7 linked regions of the Homo sapiens genome follow. Changing the gene in region 2 together with the main gene of any one other region gives a genetic interaction. Each region holds a gene or a part of one and is shown on either strand. Other genes may lie near its edges.

Region 1 (2,497 bases), on a different chromosome or scaffold from region 2:
CTTGGCACCTTATGGCCAAGGGACTCTGATGCATTTTCAACACTGATGCCAAGTTCAGTGAAGGCCTTGATGCTGTAAGGGTGACGGAAAGTAGGAAGTGAATTTGCTGTGTGATTGTGAACTGGTTACTTTCTGTCTCTGTGCTCTACCGGCCAAACAAGGGGTTTGGACCAGACCTGGGATTCCCAACAGGTGGACTTGTCGGTTGTCACCTGATAATCAGACCAGACTACCCACCTAGGTAGGGCACACTCTGTCCTGAAGCTGGAAAGCATGGCCTCTCTTCGGTTCCTATATCAGTCAGCTACTGTTGCGTAACAAATTATAGCAAACTGAGCACCTTAGGACTACAGACGTTTATCATCTCACAGTTTCTGTGAGTCAGGGGTCTGGGCACTGCTTCAGGAGCTCACAAGGCAGCAGTCACAGTGTCTCCTGGGCTGTGGTCTCATCTCAACGTTCAACCGGGGATGGGTCGGCCTCTAAGCTCATGTGGTTGTAAGCCAGGTTCAGTTCCTCATTGGTTGTCAGACCGAAGGTGTCTGTTTGTCAGTGTCTGTTGGCTGGGGCAGCCCTCAGAGCCTGGCCACGTGGACCTCCCCAGCATGATCAGTTCCTTCATCAGCAAATGGAGAAGATGGCCATGACTCTGTGTAAGACAGAGGGCACAGTCCCATGTCATGCAGAGGTGACAGGGTATCCCTTCCCCTCTGCCCCAGTGTCCTGCTGGTTAGAAGCAAGTTCAAGTCCTTCCCATACTCAAGTGGCCAGGACCTCACAGGGTATGGCTGTCAAGAGGCAGGGGCTTCTGGGGCCATCTTGGAGTCTGTCCACCCCAACTCCTGACAGCATCATCCTCTGCTGACCTGTTCCTTGAGCTCCCCCATATCAGCAGCCCAGAGTGTGGGTCCCCTGTCAGGCCACAGTGTGACCAGCCCTGGCCATGCTTGCTGGGTGACCCTGGGTGAGTGGCTTCCTCTCTCTGGGCCAGTGCCAGATGTGACATTGAATTTGTGTTGGTTACATACTTGGTGGAGATATGAGGACCCCCTGTTCTTCCTCCCAACGAAAGCATGGAAGCCCTAAGCTTATCCCCCAACCCCTGGCCCTGCTTTTCCTCGTGCCTAGTGTCCAGAAAGGAGGAGAAGGGCTGTTGTCTGGGATTAAATCATCTGAGCCTGTTAGTGTGGCAGAGTAGAGTTCCAGGGTGGCTCCCTGAGCTTCCAGCCCCTGCTCCGCACGCCCCATGCTCTTCCCTCCCCTCGAGTGTGGGTAGGGCTGGGACTGCCGTGCGTGTCACTCCTGCCATTATGTCAGAATCCCAGCAGAGGGGATGTTGCAGCTGTGATGACCGCCCCAGATCGGTTAGCGCTGAGTTCATCAAAAGGGAGGGGGTGGGCCTGGCCTAATCAGGTGAGCCACTCACCCTCCTGCTGGCCTTGGAGAAGCAAAAAGCCAGGGTGTGCCAGGAGAAGGGCATGAAGCGAGGACCCGAGGGCAGCCTCTCGGTGCCAAGAGCCATCCCCGCCAACAGCCAGCCAGGACACGGGGCCTCAGTCCACAGCCACCAGGAGGTGGACTCTTCCGACCTCCAGTGAGCTTGGAAGAGGACCCTGGGTGTCAGTGAGATCTCAGCCCTGATGACACCCTGCGAGACCTGGAGCGTAGGGCCCAGCTAGCCCGCACCTGGATTTCCACCGTTCAGAGCCGAGACACCGCATTCCTGCTGTTCCGCGTGGCTGAGTCTGCATTCGTTCGTTACGCGGTGTGTGAAGACTGACATCTGCACTGCGAGGATGGAGATCTTGGTCATCTCTGACATCTCCTGCATCGCAGAGGCCACTGCCAGCCCCCCTTTTCCCCCATGGTCATGGTGTCACCCCCGTCACCCTCTGACTGCAGGCCTGGGCGACTGCGGGGAGCTTGCTCTTCCCTCCCCCTCATCACAGTGGCCTTCTCATGGCACCCAAACCTTTCCCGCCGTTCTCCTGTCCTCGGGCTGGTCAGGCGGATGAGGTCCCTACTCCCGAGCCCCCAGCCTCACCCACTGCAGGGCCAGGCTCTCAGTCACCCCTGGAAAATGGTGCCTGGTTCACAGCTCCCGTGCATCTGCCTCATCTCTCCTGATCAACGTCTGTCTCTTGGGAGTAGCTAGAGTTCCTCATGAGCTTGTCCTCAAGCGAGGCATGCATGAGGCCTCCAGCCGGTGGTCAGTGAGGGAGTTAAGTGGCTTCTCCGTGGAAACACAGCCTTCTGCTGCAGCAGAGGCTCACCCAGCGTGAACTGCCCCCAGGGAACACTGGGCGATGCCTGGGGACATTGTGGTTGTCACGATGGGGGGTGCTCCTGGCCTGGAGTGGGTGGAGGCCAGAGACACTGCTCAGCAGCACCCTGCAGTGCCCAGGACGGCCCCGTCCCAGAGAACAATCCAGCCCCGAATGTCAGCACCTTCCCCCTACCCGAGTTGTGAAAATAAAAAATGTTTCCAGACATTGCC
Region 2 (3,500 bases):
TATAAAGGGAGGAATGGTAATAAATGGCCACATTTATTCATTCAACCCATACTGAGCACTAACCCTGTGCCTGGCCTTGTTCTAGGCATGAGGATATGGTGGTGAACAGTGCCCTTGTGGAGCTAACATTTTAGTTGGGGAAATGGACAATAAGCAGATCTGTAACATAGTGTTAAGTCCTACAAGAATGGAAAGCAGGATGAGAGACAGTGGCAGGGGTGAGTTCTTTTACATTATGAAAGCAATACTGTACTGGAGCATAAACTGCAGTAGAAATAGAAAAGGAGTTTTCGGCATTGTATTGTAAAATTACAGGGGTTGTGCTGGGCTGGGGGAGGAGAATATGATCCCTTGACACCAGTAAGACAGGCCTCTCGGGTCTCTAAAAGGAGCTCAGAGAGTTTCTAGTTGGAAGCGAGCACTACAGGTTGAGTATCCCTTATCCGAGAGCCTTGGGACCAGAAGTGTTTCAGATTTTGGGGTTTTCCCAGATTTTGGAATATTTACACATATATAAGATAACTTGGGACTGGGACCCAAGTCCAAACACAGAATTCATTTGTTGAATATATGCCTTACATACATAGCCTGAAGGTAATTTTATACCACATTTTAAGCAGTTTTGTGCATGTAACAGTTTTGGCTGCTTTTTGACTCTAGCCCATCATCACATGAGGCCAGGTGTGGAATTTCCCACTTGTGGTGTCATGTCGACACTGACAAATTTGGGATTTTTGAGCATTTCAGATTTTTTATTTTTGGGTTAGGAATGCTCAAATCTGTAGTAATAATCACAAGAATGAATATAGTTTCTTCTAAGTTAAGTGCTAAAATTTGGTGCAAATGAAAGGTGTAAAACCATGTGTAAACTACCTAAAAAGATTGAATGGATAAGCTTTTGCATAAAATACTTGAAGTAGAAGGATAGATTTGAGCACTGCAGTGTGTGCATGTATATGGGTAACTAGTTGACAGTAACAAGGGCTGCAGTCAAGGTGATCACAAAGTGCCATGAGTGCTTGGCCATTTTTACTGAGGGAATGAGGTGACTGCTCCTGACCCCAAGTGTCCTGCCATCCTTTTAGAGTTAAGCCAGATGGTCAGACTGCTGTGGGCTTCCACAGGATGTATCGGCCCTTGGCGTGTGAGGTCAGTGGCCTGTGTAGATGAAGTCTGTGACAGCCCGTCCTGGGGGTTTGTTCTCGGCCTTATTCATGTTCTTCTACTGTGACATCCTTATGAGAACCGTTGGGAGAAATTTTTGATTTTGGTGTCAGAATTTCACCCGAATAATTTGTTTGCTTTCATCTTTTGAACCCTGAATTACATAACTGTTTTCATCCTAGTGATGGTTGCTAAAAAATTTAGTTAGAGACAGATGTATGGGCTGACTCTTGACTAATTTAGACATCTTCCAGGAAAACATTTCTGTCTTGTCATCTGTGGCTCTGCTTTAGGTCTCTCTCCATGTTTAATTTTTTTTTTTTTTTTTTTTTTTTTACTTATTATTGTTAAAAAAATTTTTTAATTTCTTTCTTTCTCTTTCTTTCCTTTCTCTCCTTTCTCTCCCCTTTCTTTCTTTCCTCTTCTCTTTTCTTTTCTTTCTTGAGATGGGGTCTCACTATGTTGCCCAGGCTGGCCTCAAACTCCTAGGCTCAATCGATCCTCTAGCCTCAACCTCCCAGAGCACTGGGATTACAGTTATTTGTTATTCTTTTTATTTTCTAGTCTCTTGTGCTGAACTGCATTTATCTTTTAAATAGCCTTTAAATATTCTTTGGCAGAAAGTGAGAAACAAATACATATATTACACCTATAAAATCAGTAAAACCAAATAAAAATTATCAAGCCCAATGTTGTAAGGGCCATAGGGAAGTAAGTGCATACACGTGGTTAATGACAGTGTGCACTGAGTTTCTGAGGAGTGTGGCTAGCAATAGATACTTAGTGCTATAACATTGTTTATTCATATTAAGCGGTTAATGCCACTTTTGGAAATGTATGACAGAGAACCGAAAAGAAGATAGTCCTTACAAAATTATTTATACCTACAGTGCACAACAGTGAAAGAGGGGGAGCAACTCAAATGCACAGTGGTAGAGGAGAGTCGAAGAAGTCAGTTAATATAATGCAGTGTTATAAAGCCACCAGAAATGATTCAGTGGATTAGATAAATAGAAATGTACATAAAATATGTAAATTATCAAAACATGCATTAAATCTATTTAAGAATACGTAGATTTAGCAAAAAGAATGAGATGGTCATGGTGAGACCGCTAGGTGGGAAGGGGTCCCCGGAAAAACTCCAGCCAGCCTGCCCACCGGGGTGGAGTTTTGGGAAGTTTGCACCATTTGTAGCAGGGAGGAGCCTGGCCCCTCTTCTTTCTGTGTGGAGCCCAGGATTCTAGCTGCTGGCAGGAAGCACTCTAGCAGGGACTCTGGCCTTGTGAGTGTCTCGGATTCCCCCTTTTCTTCCTTTTCACCTAATAAAACCCTGTCTTACCCACCATTCAAACCGCCTGCGAGCCTAAATTTTTGTGGCTGTGAGACGGACAAGGATCCCGTCTTTAGCTGAACTAAGGAAAAGTCCGGCAACAATGGATATTGGAAATAATATTAATGGATAGGTTTTACTCTCCTGCAGGATTAATATAACCTGTGAGTACTTTTAGGCTTACTACCAGTACAAGGAATGGCTTTTGGAAAGTTCTTAGAATGTAGAGCTGTGCTTCTGCACTTTGTTCAGCTACAAGCAGCCTCTTTGTCTCTCTGTTTCAGGATCTAAGCATTGAAGAACAGTCAGAGTGTGCTCAGGATTTCTACCACAATGTGGCCGAAAGGATGCAAACTCGTGGGAAAGGTAACACTGTTAGCCATTGAGAGATTGCGGGTATTGCACAGGGATGACTGCTCAGTCTCTTAGCAATTTCTTTCTTTCTCTGATGGTCTGGCTGGTTTGTAGACTTCATCCTGTAACCTCATGGACATTCTGGGAACTGGTCTTATACTTAGCAGTGCCTTTGAACTGTACCATGCGTATCTTTCCAGGAGCAATTGGATAATTTATTGAGTAACATTTAATAACTCCATTGGGGCAGGGCTGGAGCTGACGAAAACATCTTAGGGCCTGGCTCAGTAGCTCATGCCTGTAATCCCAGCACTTTGGGAGGCTAAAGCAGGCGGATCACGTTAGGCCAGGAGTTCGAGACCAGCCTGGCCAACATGGTGAAACCCCGCCTCTATTAAAAATACAAAAAGTAGCCGGGTGTTGTGGTGCACCTCTTATCCCAGCTACTCGGGAGGCCGAGGCACAAGAATTGCTTGAACCCGGAAGGCGGAGGTTGCAGTGAGCTGAGACTGTGCCACTGCACTCCAGCCTGGGCAACAGATCGAGACTCTGTCTTCAAAAAAGAGAGAGAGAAAGAGAAAAACTTATTGGAAGGCTTTGCTAAATGAATTTTCCATCTTGGAATCACCATTTTGGTGAGTTATTGTATTAA
Region 3 (3,500 bases), on a different chromosome or scaffold from region 2:
AGTCTCACTCTGTCGCCCAGGCTGGAGTGCAGTGGCGCGATCTCTGCTCACTGCAACCTCCGCCTCCCAGGTTCAAGCAATTCTCCCGCCTCAGTCTCCTGAGTAGCTGGGATTACAGGCACCCACCATCATACCCAGCTAATTTTTGTATTTTTGTAGAGACGGGGTTTCACCATGTTGGCCAGGCTGGTCTTGAACTCCTAACCTGAGGTGATCCACCCGCCTTGCCTCCCAAAGTGCCGTAATTACAGGTGTGAGCCACCGCACCCGGCCTATTGTTTCTTTTTTTAAAAAAAAATTCTGATTATTTCCTACTGAGTGATTTTTACAATTCATTGAGTCATGACACAGTTTGAAAAATCCTACCCAGGCTTAACGCAGTGTCTCAGTCCTGTAGTCCTAGCAATTGGGAAGGCCAAAGTGGGAGGATCACTTGAGTCCTGGAGTTCAAGACCAGCGTGAGCAACATAGTGAGACTTTGTCTCTGAAAAAATTAAAAAAAAAAAACTGCCCTGGAAAAGCCTTGGCACGTGTATACACAAATATATATATATATTTTATATATATATGTAAAATACATATATTTTAATATATGTATTTTATATATATATAATACATATATATATAATGCTTATTGTAACATTGTTTGTAATAATGAAAAATTATAAATAACTTTGCCTTATAGAGAATTTAAGTTGTATTGCATTCATTCAGTAGACTGTAATTCACCAGTTTAAAAACAAACTAGATCTGCATGTATTATATGGATAAATTTGAAAAACATAGTGTTGACCAAAGTTAACAAGTTGTAAAACAGTAGCTACATCTGAATTTTTAAAGACATGAAAAAGAAATACTATTTATGGTTATAAACATGAGGATAAATGCAAAAACATGCATGAGAATGAAAACACCAAATTTAGGTAGTGGTTACCTTTAGGGTAAGAGGGAGGAGAGTGGGATCAGAGACACACAGGTGGTGATTCTGCTGTTGCTGATTTTATTTCTTAAAGGGAAAGAAACCTGAAATCTGGCAAATAATATGTCAAGGCTAGCTGGAAGTATGTGGACATTATATTATACATCTTTTTTCATGTATAAACATGTAATAATAAATAATATATAAAAAGTAATAAATATAATAATAAAGTTTTTTAACTTTAAAAATAAAACACGCTTTAAAAGCAACTGCTACCTCCCCTCCCCCCCACTAATAAAATTCTAGTATGATAAAAATGAATACCCTGCTTTCATTGGAAATTTCTAGCTTACACTTTCTCTCTCACTCCGTTTCTCCTTTTCTGTCTCTCTCTACTCCTTCTCCCTCCCTCCCTCCCTCTCTCTCTCTGTCTATATCAATTTTGCTTTAAGAGGAAACTGGGAATTAAACAAACTGGGATCAATGATGTAATGTATCTTTAGTACTTTGGATTTTCTAAACAATTTCCTGTAGTTTCTGAGAGTTGTATTTTAATCACATTCATAGAAACTCAGTCAGTCTGGCCAATGGAGGAGAATAGTATAGTCCTGCTCTTTCAAATTATGTTAAGCAAAATGGCTTTCTTCTCTGGGAATGCACTGTACTCAAAGATATAAGGTATTAGACTAGAGGCTCCCTTAAGTTACGGCTAGTTCTAACGTTCTAAAGCTCTAACACAGAATCTTTCTTCTGTTGGATTGTTAGTTCTTTGAAACTAGACAGTGTGTTCTAAATACTAACCCTCATAATACCCTGAATAATACAGTTAGTATGTTAAAAATTAATTAAAAGAATGGTCATCACAACTTTGAATTCCATGGTACACTTTCCACAAATGCTTCTGTTTGTACCATGTTGATTAGTAATGTGACCCTTTCTTTCCCATGTTTAGTGATTTAGAATCTAGAAGAGAAGTAAAAAAAGAAGAAGGTGAAGCTTTTGCACGAGAACATGGACTCATCTTCATGGAAACGTCTGCTAAGACTGCTTCCAATGTAGAAGAGGTAAATAAGAGGCCCTTTAAAATCTTCATCTTTATACTTAATAGAAATGTTTTATATATCTTCATTTTACTTATTATTTAAGTTTTTAGTCGGATGGTCTTTGAACATCATAAAGTAGGAAAGTTTCTTCCCTTTGAAATCCCTTGTAACATTCACCTTCTGTCAGACTCTTAAATCATATTGAGCCTTCTAAAGCCTGAATGTTTTCTTACATTTTTGTACGTATTTTCACTCCCTCCCTTTTTCTAAACAATTTCCTATAGTTTCTGAGAGTTATATTTTAATCACATTCATAGAAAGTCAGTCTGGCCAATGGAGGAGAATAGTGTAGTCCTATTCTTTCAAATTATGTTGAGCAAAATGGCTTCTCTGGGAACCCACTGTACTCAAAGATATAAGGTATTGGACTTCTTCGTGTTGCATGGTAGGGAAATCTTTTTTGTGTTGCATGGGAGGGAAACAAGGAACCACACTAATGAAATTTGGAAATGTTTCAAGACAGCAGAACGTTTGTAGCTATTTATATCCACTTCTGCTTATTTTTTTAATTTTATTTATTTTTTTAACTGTCAATATATTACCACATCACCACTTCTGCTTAAAGTATTCTATTATTGCTGTGTAACATTTTACAAAGCATGAGAATTCTGTTTCATCTATTGATGAAATTTGTATTATTTCAGTTATTTCCATTGATGAACCTGAACTATTGGAACTTTTCTGAACACAGTGTATTCTTTTATGCTCTATGTGTTTGTGTTTGGAGGTAGTATGTATATACATATTATAAATAGATGATTACGTAGTTGATCCTTTCTAAGGTAAATGTATTACTATACTGTTATTTTATAAAAAGAGGTAATGAAGCTAAGAAAAGTAGTAGTTTATCCAAAGTAATACTTAGTTCCCGATTTCTAGATAAGAACAGCTTATAAGAGCAACTACAGAAAGTAGTTCTAAAAAACAAATGAGTTAAGAATCACTGCCGTAAGGATAACAGAGGTCAGGGTCCTGGGCAACAGCTAGCATGTGCCTTCAATGTAGTAAGCAGTCAGTAAATATTTATTAAGAATGATACTTGGAGCTCTTCTGATTAACCCTTGAACCTAAAAATTGACTACAGTAATTCTACAGCATTGGTATTTTCACCGAAGAATTCTTTCTTAGGTAAAATATTATACAGTCATGTGTTGCTTGACAAAGGAGATACATTCTGAGAAATATGTCACCAGGTGATTTCATCGTCACGTGACCATCATAGAGTGTACTTACATAAGCCTAGATGGCATAGCCTACTACTGCACCTACTACACACTTCCCTTAGTAGACCTTGGTGCCAGAGGAATGACACAGTGATGATTTCCCTTGGTTTTCTTTTTGCCACATACCCGAGACTGGGTGCTAGAGAAACAGGCAACCTAGAAAGGTCAACAGGCACAGAAAAAGAAAGTCTTCTAGCCAGAGAACCAGGAAATAGGCAGGTCAGAACAGTGTTCGCAAGCCAGAACACTCTTAGA
Region 4 (2,204 bases), about 82 Mb from region 2:
GTAGTCCCAGCTACTTGGGAGCTGAGGCAGGAAGATCGCTTGAGCCTGGAAGAGCCTGGGAGGTTGAGGCTGCAGTGAGCCATGTTTGTGCCACTGCACTCCGGCCTGGGCGACAAAGTGAGACCCTGTCTCAGAGGGGAAAAAAAGCAAAACAAAACAGGATTGCTTGGTTCTAGCCACATTTAGTTTTTCTCGTCTAGGGACAACAGGGAGAACAAGAGCTTTACCATAGAGTGGCCTGCTTAATCCACAACCTAGTTGATAAGGACCTAGAAACAACAACGTCATTAGTTATTCACCTTTTAAATTGTCGACAGTGTTACCGAAAAATCATAGGCCTAGCTTCAGTTTGGAACCAGCTCACCCAAATTTTTTTTTTTTTTTTTTTTTTTTTTGAGACAGAGTTTCGCTCTTGTTGCCCAGGCCGGAGTGCAATGGCGTGATTTTGGCTCACCGCAACCTCAGCCTCCCGGGTTCAAGCGATTCTCCTGCCTCAGTGTCCCGAGTAGCTGGGATTACAGGCATGCGCCACCGCGCCCAGGTGATCTGCCCGCCTCGGCCTCCCAAAGTGCTGGGATTACAGGCGTGAGCCACTGCAGCCGGCTTTTTTAAAAAACTCAGCAAAAAGACTTTGGTTCCTCACTTTCTCCAAGGATAATTACTTCAGGATGTGGAAATATTTCTGAGTTGGGGTCCTTAGTATACAGTTATTCTTTATTACTGCGCAGACCGAATGGGAAAGAGAACTTGGCTGTAGTGACCCTTTTTGTTGCGTTTTCTCCAGAAGGTCCAGTATTCACTCTGTGCGCTTTTGTGTGTTCTGTCAGGCTTGATCACCTTTATCCAAAAGAATTTTCTCCTGTGTCTTTCTTTTTAGATTATTTCTCAAGATGAAGCTGACAGAAGAGGGAAAGTGTATGATAAATACATGTGCAGCTTTCTGTTCAACTTGAACAATGGTATGTTTCAGAGCTGGGAGGCAGTGAGTTCCTGAGTTGCATGTGGCAGCCTTCTGCCGGCCGAGTGTTCAGAAACGAGGGTAGAGGTCAGTGAGGTGACCAGAAGGAGGATCTCCTTAGAGGCATGGGGGGCTGCTTGCTTGAAAGGAACTGGAGCAAGGAATTCCTCAGGGAGCAGATAGACTAGATGTGCAGGAAACCGCCTCTCTGGAGTCCCGGCTGTCTGTGGGTGGCACTATCCCAGCATCTGGCTGTGAAGGGGACGTTGTGCTCTTGCTGCTCACCTCACCTCTTGTGTTCAGGCAGCTCAGCACACCTCCTCCAGTCAGTGCCTCTGAGCGGGGAAGGAGGGGAGGAGCACTGCATTTGCAACCATCTTCCAGACTCCCCTGGATATTCTCAAAGGACTGAGAGGAAAGGCAGCTGCTTTCATAGCTGATGTTCTGGGGTAGAATGTAAGGCTGTGTAGGGATGTTTCTGGTGGGATTATGTGAAAATGGAGGTAGGCTTAACATGTAAGATATTCAGAGAAACTCTTAGTTGGAACAAGTAGAATAGGTTTTTTTCTATGAATGCTTTATAGACATTATAATGAAAAAAACTAATTTTAAATGTGAAAATGCCTATTCGTGATGTTTGGAAGAATTTTGTCAGATTTTTTTTTTTTTTTGCTATGTTTTGCTCAGTAATGTATGTTTATAGTTGATAATTAATAGCTTTTGAGTCAGATAACCATCTTGAATTATAGGTGATTAATTTTAACCTGGAACAATAGTGTGTTCTTCCAAATGTCATTTCTTACTGAATGAAGCTGCTTGATTTATTTGCTTTTGCAGGCAAACCCTGAAGAACTGTAACCAGTTGCATTTACAAAATCATAATAACTTGGTTTACTTATAACTGAAATTATTCACTGGGCTGTGCTTACTTTTTTCTTTTTAGATTTTGTGGTGGATGCAACCCGCAAGGGTAACAAAATTCGTTTTGCAAATCATTCGGTAAATCCAAACTGCTATGCAAAAGGTAGGTACCTTTGACGTGAGAATTGGAACTCCCTTTTCAGTCCTGTGATGATGGACTTGAATACTTCTGGGATAGTTGTTTGTTATGTGAACAAGTCAGTTAACCCCCCGTGGCCCGTCTTCATGCTCACTGACACCAGTGTGTCTCTTTGCAGTTATGATGGTTAACGGTGATCACAGGATAGGTATTTTTGCCAAGAGAGCCATCCAGACTGGCGAAGAG
Region 5 (3,500 bases), on a different chromosome or scaffold from region 2:
AGGAGGCCAAGGCGGGAAGATCACCTAAGGTCAGGAGTTTGAGATCAGCCTGGCCAACATGGCAAAACCCCATCTCGACCAAAAATACAAAAATAAGCTGGGCGTAGTAGTGCACATCTGTAGTCCCAGCTACTTGGAAGGCTGAGGCAGGAGAATCGCTTGAACCCGGGAGGCGGAGGTTGCAGTGAGCAGCTTGGGCAACAGAGCCAGACTCCATCTCAAAAAAATAATAAAATAAAATAAAGTAAAAAGAACATGGTCTGCAGTAGGTGTTTTTGTTTTGTTTTTGTTTGTTTGTTTTTGAAACGGAGTCTCGCTCTGTCGCCCAGGCTGAAGTGTAGTGGCGCAATCTCAACTCACTGCAAGCTCCGCCTCCCGGGCTCAAGCAATTCTCCTGCCTCAGCCTCCCTAGTAGCTGGGATTACAGTCGTGTGCCACCCTATGCCTGGCTAATTTTTGTATTTTTAGTAGAGACGGCGTTTCACCATGTTGGCCAGGCTGGTCTCAAACTCCTGACCTCAAGTGATCCACCCACCTCGGCCTCCCAAAGGGTTGGGATTACAGGCGTGAGCCACCATGCCCAGCCTGCAATAGGTATTCAAAATCCTCCCTAAGAGAAAATAATTGTGCCTCGCTATCTACCAAAGACATTGGTTAAAAAAAAGTCTCAGCAGTTACAATGTACAGTATCACCTTCCCTTCTGTAACCAAAATACTTATTAAATATATGAATGCTAGTTATCAGATTATTTTAAAAGTTTATTTTCTTTCTCTAATAATAAGGTAAAATACATTTTGGAAATCTGCATGGAATGTTCCCAACAAGTTATTTCATTTTAGCAGGGTCTATGACATACAGCTTTAGTCATTCTTTCAATTACTTGGAACCACAGAATTCTCCAAAATACAAAAATTAAATTTTCAGCTTTTATATCAAATAATGGTCTCAACCATTTAATACAAAGCAACATACTTTCTCAGGTTTCTGTTAATAAGGCAAAATAAAAGTCACTCAGAAAAAAAAGGTTAAATCATGAAGATTTCTCTTTTGTAGGATATAATTCACCCCTGTGGTTTCTCTTCTACCATTAATGTCTTATCTACTCTAATTCCTTCAAAGTTTCAAGTTCAATACAGTATAACATATGCAGAGATTTTATAGTTTTTATCATAGATTTTTTTTTTCAACATTGTTTTCAGGATGTTTTAAACACTTTCACAACTATTACCTCAGATTTGTGATTATGGCTTATAGTACGGTCTACTTTCAAAACCATGATTTTTGGATCATGGCCCATCCAAGATTTTACTCTGTTCAGAAAAAGAAAAAAAATTACATATCCAGAGTTTCACAAGCAATTCAGGGGTTTTTCCCACAGACATCAAAAACCTTGCAATAAAGGGGTGAAATCCAAAAATTACTTTCGATTTCAAAGGTTTAATATTTTTAAAAAATTGAGAAATCTATTTAAGGTGTTGAATAAACTTTTTATGACTTATCAGGCAAAATTAAAATATTTATCATGGGCAGGGCACGGTGGCTTACACCTGTAATCCCAGCATTTTGAGAGGTCAAGGCTGGACGACTGCTTGAAGCTATGAGATTGGGACTAGCCTGGAAAATATAGCGGACCCCACCTCTATAAAAAATTATTATTTTTTATTAGCTGGGCATAGTGCTGTGTGCCTGTAGTCCTAGCTACCAGAGAGGCTGAGGTGGAAAGATCCTTTTTTGTTGTTGAGACAGGGTCTCACTCTGTCACCCAGACAGGAATGTAGTACCACAATCACTGCTTACTGAAGCCTTGACCTCCTGGGTTCAAGTAACCCTCCCGCCTAAGCTTCCCAAGTAGCTGGGACTACTGGTGTGTACCACCATGCCTGGATAATTAAAAAAAAAAAAGAAGTCATAAAGACAGGTTCTTATTATATTGACCAGGTTGGTCTTGAACTCTTGACCTCAAGTGATCCTCCTGCCTTGGCCTCCTAAAGTGTTGTGATTACAGGTGTGAGCCACAGCATCCAGCCTAAGGAAGATCCCTTGAGCCTAGGAATTTGAGGCTGCAGTGAGCTATGATTGCATCACTGTACTCCAGCTTGGGCAAAAGTGAGACCATGTCTCTAAAAAATAATAATAAAATAAAATAAAGTATTTACAATGGAAGGAATCTGTGGTGTTACTTTTAGGTAATCTCAGAAGAACTTTTCAAACTCAGATGTATATATGCGGCAACCAATGTGCATATGGAGATACTGACATAGAGAGAAAAATGTTCAATCTAATATTAGCCAGTAAACATATGATGCATTAACTGGAGGAGTTAAAAGTCCATACTTGAAGGTACTGTTTAATTTATCAGGATCAATCAATCAAGAAAAACACCCACAACATAAAAACAGGGTGGTATATTTTAGTACTACTGATTTATAATAAACAGATCCTCAGATTTAGGCAGATCATTTTTAAATGCCATTAGTGATCAATGTATGCAACACAGTTGCACATAGCTATTAACAAGTTATTTTGACATGCATTACATACATGTATTCAAATTAACTATAATTTTTTGTGCTTATTTCTAGAGCAAATTAATTAAATGGCTTTCACCTTAAAGGCTTAAAATGTTTTAAAACTTCAAGTCATTAAAGATGTACTGACATTAAAACTATGTTTGAAGGCTGGGCGCAGTGGCTCATGCCTGTAATCCCAGCACTTTGGGAGGCCGAGGCGGGTGGATCACTTGAGGTCAGGAGTTCAAGACCAGCCTGGCCAACATGGTGAAACCCCATCTCTACTAAAAATACAAAAATTAGCCGGGTGTGGTGGTGTGCGCCTGTAGTCCCAGCTACTCAGAGGACTGGGGCAGGAGAATCACTTGAACCCAGGAGGCAGAGGTTGCAGTGAGCCGAGATTGCACCACTGTACTCCAGCCTGGGTGACAAAGTGAGACTCTGTCTCAATTAAAAAAAAAAAAAACTATGTTTGAAAGTATATATAATTTGTAATAATATACACGGGAAGAAATAAAAGGTTATTATGGCAATCTGAGTTTCTTAATCCAAAAATTAAAAATCAAAACACATTTCATATGTAAGAGTTAAGTGGTTTTTTTTCTTTATTCAAGTAATCATTTAGACTCTAATACATGATAATGGACAACCATGTGACAAAGTACTGTAGTGTATGGTTTGGTGTAGCCTCCTTGCCTCTAGGATGGGATTTTTTCCAGGTGATTCTTCAGGATCTGACATCGATGCCCAACACAGGCTTTCCAATGGCAATGCATGAGTTCTAGAGGTCACTGCCCCATCTTTCTTCAGGTGCTGTGTGCCATTTTCTCCCACCCATTTTATCCTCCATTACTTATAAAAACCCCACTCTAAAATTCAACCTATGTTATAAAATTAACAAAATCAGGAGTTAGTACACATTTTTCCACAATGATAAAATTAAGACTCATAATGTACTATCTTGTTTCGTCTAACTTTTGGAGGATTTA
Region 6 (3,500 bases), on a different chromosome or scaffold from region 2:
TATCAGTATATGAAAAGCTAGCTCATTCTTTTAACAGCTGCATGGAGGTAGCATAATTTATTCAACAATTTCCCTAATAATAATATTTTCATATTTTTCTTTTACAAATAATGCTAAAATGAATATCCTTGCACTTTAGTCATTTCAACCACATGAGTATAGCTGTAGGATGAATTACCACTAGCGGAACTACCAGGTGGAAAATAATGCCAATTTAAATTTTGATAGCAACTGCATGGGAAAGCTACACATACGTGTATACACACACACACAGTAGATTACCACGGTTTTTTATTTTTCCTAATCTAGCTGAAACTCCATTTTTTTTTTTTCTTATGAGGTTCAGTTCTTCATACGTTCAAGAATCATTTACATATCCTTTCTGGAAACTCTTCCTATCTATTTCTCTTTTTCTACTGGGTGACTGGTCTCCTGGTGATTTGCAGATCTTTATATGCAGTTATTAAGGGATTTGTTCTTTGTCTAGGACATTACATGTATTTTTTCAGTTTGTCACTTATCTTTTGACTTTGGTTTTGTTACAGAGATTTTATTTTTATATAGTTTACTTCTACTTTCATGGCTTTCTCACACCAAGATTCTCCCGTGTTTTACAGTTATATGTTTACATTCTTCCATTTATCTGGAATTCTGGTACAAGGTTTTTTTTTCTTTGAGACGGAGTCCCACTCTGTTGCCCAGGCTGGAGTGCAATGGTGCCATCTCGGCTCACTGCAATCTCTGCCTCCTGGGTTCAAGCGATTCTCCTGCCTCAGCTTCCCGAGTAGCTGGGATTACAGGCACCTGCCACCATGCCCGGCTACTTTTTGCATTTTTAGTAGAGACAGGGTTTCACCATGCTGACCAGACTGGTCTCAAACTCCTGACCTTAGGCGATCCACCCGCCTCAGCCTCCCAAAGTGCTGGGATTACAGGTGTGAGCCACTGCACCCGGCTGGTACAAAGCTTAAGGTAGAGATCCAATTTTTTTTTCTGGTTTCAATACCAATTATTAAAAATATATATATATATATATACACACACATATATATATACGTATATATATACATATATATACATATATATATACATATATATACACATATATATATACATACATATATATACGTATATATATGTATGTATATATATATACATATATATATATATATGGGTCTCACACTGTCACCCGGGCTGGAGTGCAATGATGCAATCTTGGCTCACTGCAACCTCCACCTCCTGGGTTCAAGTGATTCTCCTGCCTCAGCCTCCCAAGTAGCGAGGATTACAGGTGCCCACCACCATGCCTGGCTAATTTTTCGTATTTTTAGTAGAGACGGGCTTTCACTATGTTGGCCAGGCTGGTCTCGAACTCCTGACCTCGTGATCTGCCTGCCCCCGCCTCCCAAAGTGCTGGAATTACAGGCGTGAGCCACTGTGCCTGGCCTTAAAAATATTTTTTCTTCATTTCCTATCACCTTTAGCACAGACTACATTTCTTTTTGTATTCTGAGTTCATTTCTAGACTCTGTTTATACATCAGTTCTTAGAGTATCAAACGATCTTATTTATTATATCTTTGCATTATGTTTTAATATCCATCATTAGTCCACCTTTTCAGAAGTTTTTTGACAATGTGTGCATGTTTGTAAAATTTATCTGTAGAAACAATCAGTTTGCCTGGTTCTAAAAAACCATTATTAAAAATCTGGAGTATTTTTGGCCAGGTATGGTGGCCTATGCCTGTAACCCCAGCACTTTGGGTTGGGCAGGCAGGAGGACTGTTTGAGGTCAGGAGCTCAAGACCAGTCTGAGCAACATAGTGAGACACCTACTGATTAAGCCCAGGAGTTTGAGGTTACAGTGAGTTATACTCACACTACTGCACTCTAGCCTGGGCGACAGAGCGAGACCCTGTCTCCAGAAAAAACAACTGTGGTATTTTAAACAGGGATTACATTAAGTTTAGGGACACTGACATCTTTAGGATACCAAGCTTTACTATACAAGAAAAGAGAATACCTTCCCATTTTTCGAGTATTGTTTTGTGTTCCCCAGCATTATTATTTCCACATAAACCTTACATATGCCTAAGTATATCCCCAAGTATTTATAGCAGCACAATCTACAGTATTTGTACATTCCTAGACATTGCTCCATGGCCTTCTGTCATCAAATGTAGCTAGCCTAATTTCTTTTCCCCTCTTAAAGAGGACTTGATCATTTTGTCTGGGTGTCCAAATAATTCTTTCTTCATCCTTAAAACATAGAAATGTTCCTAGGGATGCCAGGCTCTGTGCCAGGCCTGTAGTCCCAGCACTTTGGGAGACTGAGGTTAGTGGATCACTTGAGCCCACAGTTTGAGACCAGCCTGGGCAACATGGCAAAACCCTGCCTCTACAAGAAATACAAAAATTAGCGGGCGTGGTGGTGTGCACCTGTAGTCTCAGCTACTCGGGAGGCAGAGGTGGGACAATCGATTAAGCCTAGGAGGTCAAGAGTGCAGTGAGCTGGGATCATGCCTCTGCACCCAGCCTGGGCAACAGAGTGAGACACTGTCTCAAAACAAAACAAAACACACGAAAAATAAGATAAATTTTTTAAAAAAGAAATTTTCCTAGGAAATGTTTCAGTGCCAACTGTTCAGTGCCAATTTTTCTTATCACTTCATGCCAATTTGAACTTATCACTTCAAATCTTTGGCAAGTTCAAATCATGCCAATTTGAACTTATCACTTCAAATCTTTACTTCTAAGTTCTTCTTTAACCATATATTTGAGTTTGTTTCATTTCTTTGGTCCTCTTCTTGAGGGACACCAATTATACTTACGTCAGATCTCTTTTACTTTCTGCATCTATTATGTTCTCATTGTTTTCTTCAGTTTCATTTTTCAATCTGTCCTCCCTAACCTTTACTGTTTTCAGCACTGTGTGTTCATCTTTATTCTGTTTCTTTCTTTCTTTTTTTTTTTGACAGTCTCACTTCATCACCCAGGCTGGAGTACAGTGACATGATCTCGGCTCACTGCAACCTCCTCTTCCCAGGTTCAAGTAAGTCTCCTGCCTCAGTGTCCCAAGTAGCTGGGATTACAGGAGTGAACCACTGTGCCCAGCCTTTATTCTGTTTCCAATGTGGCTTTTAATCCTGTGATAATTTTAGTTTTCTCTTCCACTACTTTCCTGTGTGCTCTGCCAGCTGATGTTATATTTTCTCTTTGCCATGCCTTATTTTACCCAATCCTCTATATCTCTGCTTGAAGTTCTGTATTTTCTTAAGTTCTTTGAACTCACAGTGGTAGGACTGACAATTATTTTTCAACCAAGCTAAAGACATCTTTTTAGTATGGGTACTTTATCTGCCACTTATTTTCCATTTCCCCCCATCCTTTCTAATAGCATCTTTCTACAGCTATTGTGCTGATTCCATTTGTTTTGTTTTTTTGGTTTTGAGATGGCGGTCTCGCTCTGTCACCCCAGCGGGAGTTCAGTGGCAAGATCTT
Region 7 (3,500 bases), on a different chromosome or scaffold from region 2:
ATGAATATATAACAACACTCAGAAATTTTTAATGTGTTTATTATAAAATATTTTAGCTCAATGGAACATGAAAGCTAGATTAAATAGCTTTTACTTATAAATTTAATTTATCACTTATAGTCTCGAGACATCTCATGCATTAGAAACTATACTAGCAATAATATAAAGCATTTAATTTTTCTTGCTTGGTAATATTTCTAATATTCAGATAAAATGATCAAACTTTTCAATATTATTAATTCCTTGTGGATTATTGTTTTTGTTCAGGATAACCTTTTTGAATGGCACTTCACGGTTAGAGGGCCCCCAGACTCCGATTTTGATGGAGGAGTTTATCACGGGCGGATAGTACTGCCACCAGAGTATCCCATGAAACCACCAAGCATTATTCTCCTAACGGTAAGAATTTTGGATTTTTAGAGTGCTTGTGGCTTCACTCTTCCTGGTAGCTGCAAAATATAGTAAGCAAATCATTTTCATTAAGAAATAATAGAACAGTATAATTTTGCTTTTGGGGTCCAGGCCCTGGGACTACAATTTTTTTCCTCCAAAATAATTCCTAGGAAGCTGATGCATCTGAGAAGTAAAAATGATACAACTGAATGCATAAATGTCATATCATGGTTGTTAGGATTCAATGAATTAATATATGCCAAGTGCTGGGCATACACATCTGGCACTTCATAAGTACTCACTAAAGGGTAGCTAATGTTATTGTACCTTGTAATCATATTGTCTCCTTTAACTTCCCACCTTTCTTACACTCTCTTCCTCAGTTTTCTCATCTTTACAATGAGAATAATGATACCTACCTCATTGAGTTTATGTGGGATGAAAAGTATCAAGATCTTATTGTATAGCTCTTAGAATAGAGCCTGACACAGAATACTCAATAAGTGTTAGCATTATTATTACTGTTTATATCTCAGATTTTCTCTCTTTCTCTCCAAATTTACACATCTTTTCTTCATGTGAAGGAAAACTTTTTTTTTTTTTTAAGAGACACGGTCTTTCTCTGTTGCCCAGGCTGGAGCGCAGTAGCACGATCATAGCTCACTGTAGCCTCAAACTCCTGGGCTCAAGCTATCCTCCCACCTCAGCCTCCTGAGTAGCTGGGACTATAGGCACATGCCACTGCACCCAGCTAATTAAAAAGTTTTTTGGTAGAGACATGGTCTCATTGGTCTTGAACTACTGGCCTCAGGCAGTCCTCCCATCTCAGCCTCCCAAAGTGCTAGGATGACAGGTGTCACCATCATACCTGGCCAAGGAAAACTATTGATCTAATTCCTCTTTAATTGTTAAGCTTTTCTTCTCTCATTTCCTTTAACTATGTTTAATTATCCCCTAACCTTGAAAAAAGCAAAAACAAACACAAAAACCATTCCCTGTATCTGTTATCACTTTAAGCTGTGCCTATTTTTCTCTTTGGTAACCTCCAAGGCATCCTTTCCGTAGTTTGGCCTGCTGCAGTCCACCTTCCACACATAGTGCCCTGTTGAAACATGAAACTACACCAATCTCAGAGACCAGTTTGAGAAATCTCACTGCTTCTCCTCAGCCTTCATCCTGTTCTCAGTTAAACATCTTACCCACACGGAGTAGCAAATGGTGAAACAACAGGTATTCATCAATAAATACCAAATTAGGCCGGGCGCGGTGGCTCACGCCTGTAATCCCAGCACTTTGGGAGGCCGAGGCGGGTGGATCATGAGGTCAGGAGATCGAGACCATCCTGGCTAACAAGGTGAAACCCCGTCTCTACTAAAAATACAAAAAATTAGCCGGGCGCGGTGGCGGGCGCCTGTAGTCCCAGCTACTCGGGAGGCTGAGGCAGGAGAATGGCGTGAACCCGGGAAGCGGAGCTTGCAGTGAGCCGAGATTGCGCCACTGCAGTCCGCAGTCCAGCCTGGGCGACAGAGCGAGACTCCATCTCAAAAAAAAAAAACATAAATAAATAAATAAATAAATAAATAAATACCAAATTAATGCTGCTTTTACCTCTATTTTGTATAACAGAGAGAACATTTGTTTAAGAGCCAATAGGCCTAGATTCTGACTGGTGCTCTTTCCATTACACTATGGGTGGGTTACACAATGTCTTTAAAATTGTTTTCTCATCAGTCAAAATGAATGTTGTGTTTGGTAATTGTAATCACACCATAAAGTACCTGACATATAGAAGCTGCTTAATAAGTATTAGCTGATATAGAGAACTGCTAATGCTGGCAGTAGAGTTGGAGCAGGGTCCTGGAGACACTCTACTGTGTCAGGAGTCATTTTATTTAGTTGCTAGATCATGGGGAGAGCTAAGTGGTCTTCGGGGAGGGAGGGGCTGGTGCATGGGGAGACTGGTGGTGGTGGAGGACAGTAGTTAGCAGCAGCTCTTTACCAACAAATACAGGTATATTTCAATAGTTAGCCAATGGTATGGTCATACTAACCACACTGGCTGAGAATCAGCCCTGATTTTCAACATTACACTCTTTCTGGTTCACTTCTTTTTTGAAAAGTCTTCTCCAACTTTCATTCAATAAGTATTTATTTATCCTTTCATTCATCACTCCTCTGAAAATCACACCTCTCTCAGAGCCTTTCTCCCCATGTCTTTCCTCACTAACATCTAGTTAGGTGATACTGAGTCCTTAGGTTTCGTCCTGGCCTCTTGAATGTCTTCTCTTTTAGATTCTTTTTTTTTTTTTAACTTGAGATAGGGTCTCACTCTGTCACCCAGGCTGGAGTCCAATAGCATGATCACAGCTCACTGCAGCCTTGATGTCCCACACTCAAATGATCCTCCCACGTCAGCCTCCTGAGTAGCTGAGACTATAGTCACACATACCACGCTTGGCTAAATTTTTTTTATTTTTATTTTTTGTAGAGACAGGGTTTCACTTTGTTGCCCAGGCTGGTCTCAAACTCCTGGCCTCAAGTGACCTTCCTACCTTAGCCTCCCAAGTGCTGGGATTACAGACATGAGTCACCATGCCTGGCCTCTTTTAGATTCTTAACTGAGCCTAGCTCCATACTAGGCACAGGGTAGGACATTAGTAAATCCTCTCCCCTCCCCTCCCCTCCCCCACTCCTTCCCTCCTCCCCTTCCCCCTCCCCTCTCCTTCCCCCCTCTCCTTCCCCCTTCCCCTCCCCACCCCTCTTCCCTCCCCATCCCTTCCCCCCTCCCCTCCCCACTTCCCTCCCTTCCCCCCTCCCCTCCCCTCTCTCCTCCCCCATCCCCTCTCCTCCCCCCTCCCCCCCTCTCCTCCCCTCCTCTCCTCTTTTTTTTTCTTTTCTTGGGGACAGGGTCTCACACTGTCACCCAGGCTGGCATGCAGCAATGCAGTCATAGTTCACTGTGGCCTTGAACTCCTGGGCTCAAGTAATCTTCCTGTCTTAGCCTCCCAAGTAGGTAGGACTAGAGGCACATGCCACCACTCCTGGCTAATTTTCTTTCTTTTCTTTTTTTGGTGACAGTGTCTCACTAAGTTGCTCAAGCTGGCCTT

Evidence for each region.
Region 1: changes in RABGEF1 (region 2) and SLC39A3 together harm fitness less than expected from each alone (positive genetic interaction), as found in Homo sapiens cells (one large-scale study listed by BioGRID).
Region 3: changes in RABGEF1 (region 2) and RAB2A together harm fitness less than expected from each alone (positive genetic interaction), as found in Homo sapiens cells (one large-scale study listed by BioGRID).
Region 4: changes in RABGEF1 (region 2) and EZH2 together harm fitness less than expected from each alone (positive genetic interaction), as found in Homo sapiens cells (one large-scale study listed by BioGRID).
Region 5: changes in RABGEF1 (region 2) and SLC33A1 together harm fitness more than expected from each alone (negative genetic interaction), as found in Homo sapiens cells (one large-scale study listed by BioGRID).
Region 6: changes in RABGEF1 (region 2) and DCAF7 together harm fitness less than expected from each alone (positive genetic interaction), as found in Homo sapiens cells (one large-scale study listed by BioGRID).
Region 7: changes in RABGEF1 (region 2) and UBE2J1 together harm fitness less than expected from each alone (positive genetic interaction), as found in Homo sapiens cells (one large-scale study listed by BioGRID).

Annotation. Positions count from the first base shown.
Region 1 is NC_000019.10:2,734,521-2,737,017, reverse strand, and holds part of SLC39A3 (zinc transporter ZIP3), read left to right. Parts: coding exon of another isoform or gene 1-78; exon of another isoform or gene 79-2,492; intron 2,493-2,497. UniProt on the Homo sapiens protein: Transporter for the divalent cation Zn(2+). Mediates the influx of Zn(2+) into cells from extracellular space. Controls Zn(2+) accumulation into dentate gyrus granule cells in the hippocampus.
Region 2 is NC_000007.14:66,792,733-66,796,232, forward strand, and holds part of RABGEF1 (rab5 GDP/GTP exchange factor), read left to right. Parts: intron 1-2,778; coding exon 2,779-2,860; intron 2,861-3,500. UniProt on the Homo sapiens protein: Rab effector protein acting as linker between gamma-adaptin, RAB4A or RAB5A. Involved in endocytic membrane fusion and membrane trafficking of recycling endosomes. Stimulates nucleotide exchange on RAB5A. Can act as a ubiquitin ligase.
Region 3 is NC_000008.11:60,589,987-60,593,486, forward strand, and holds part of RAB2A (ras-related protein Rab-2A), read left to right. Parts: intron 1-1,871; coding exon 1,872-1,983; intron 1,984-3,500.
Region 4 is NC_000007.14:148,809,088-148,811,291, reverse strand, and holds part of EZH2 (histone-lysine N-methyltransferase EZH2), read left to right. Parts: intron 1-877; coding exon 878-959; intron 960-1,901; coding exon 1,902-1,982; intron 1,983-2,136; coding exon 2,137-2,204. UniProt on the Homo sapiens protein: Polycomb group (PcG) protein. Catalytic subunit of the PRC2/EED-EZH2 complex, which methylates 'Lys-9' (H3K9me) and 'Lys-27' (H3K27me) of histone H3, leading to transcriptional repression of the affected target gene.
Region 5 is NC_000003.12:155,823,428-155,826,927, forward strand, and holds part of SLC33A1 (acetyl-coenzyme A transporter 1), read right to left. Parts: 3' UTR 1-3,500. UniProt on the Homo sapiens protein: Acetyl-CoA transporter that mediates active acetyl-CoA import through the endoplasmic reticulum (ER) membrane into the ER lumen where specific ER-based acetyl-CoA:lysine acetyltransferases are responsible for the acetylation of ER-based protein substrates, such as BACE1.
Region 6 is NC_000017.11:63,556,977-63,560,476, reverse strand, and holds part of DCAF7 (DDB1- and CUL4-associated factor 7), read right to left. Parts: intron 1-3,500. UniProt on the Homo sapiens protein: Involved in craniofacial development. Acts upstream of the EDN1 pathway and is required for formation of the upper jaw equivalent, the palatoquadrate. The activity required for EDN1 pathway function differs between the first and second arches.
Region 7 is NC_000006.12:89,339,223-89,342,722, reverse strand, and holds part of UBE2J1 (ubiquitin-conjugating enzyme E2 J1), read left to right. Parts: intron 1-267; coding exon 268-399; intron 400-3,500. UniProt on the Homo sapiens protein: Catalyzes the covalent attachment of ubiquitin to other proteins. Functions in the selective degradation of misfolded membrane proteins from the endoplasmic reticulum (ERAD) and is essential for cells to recover from ER stress.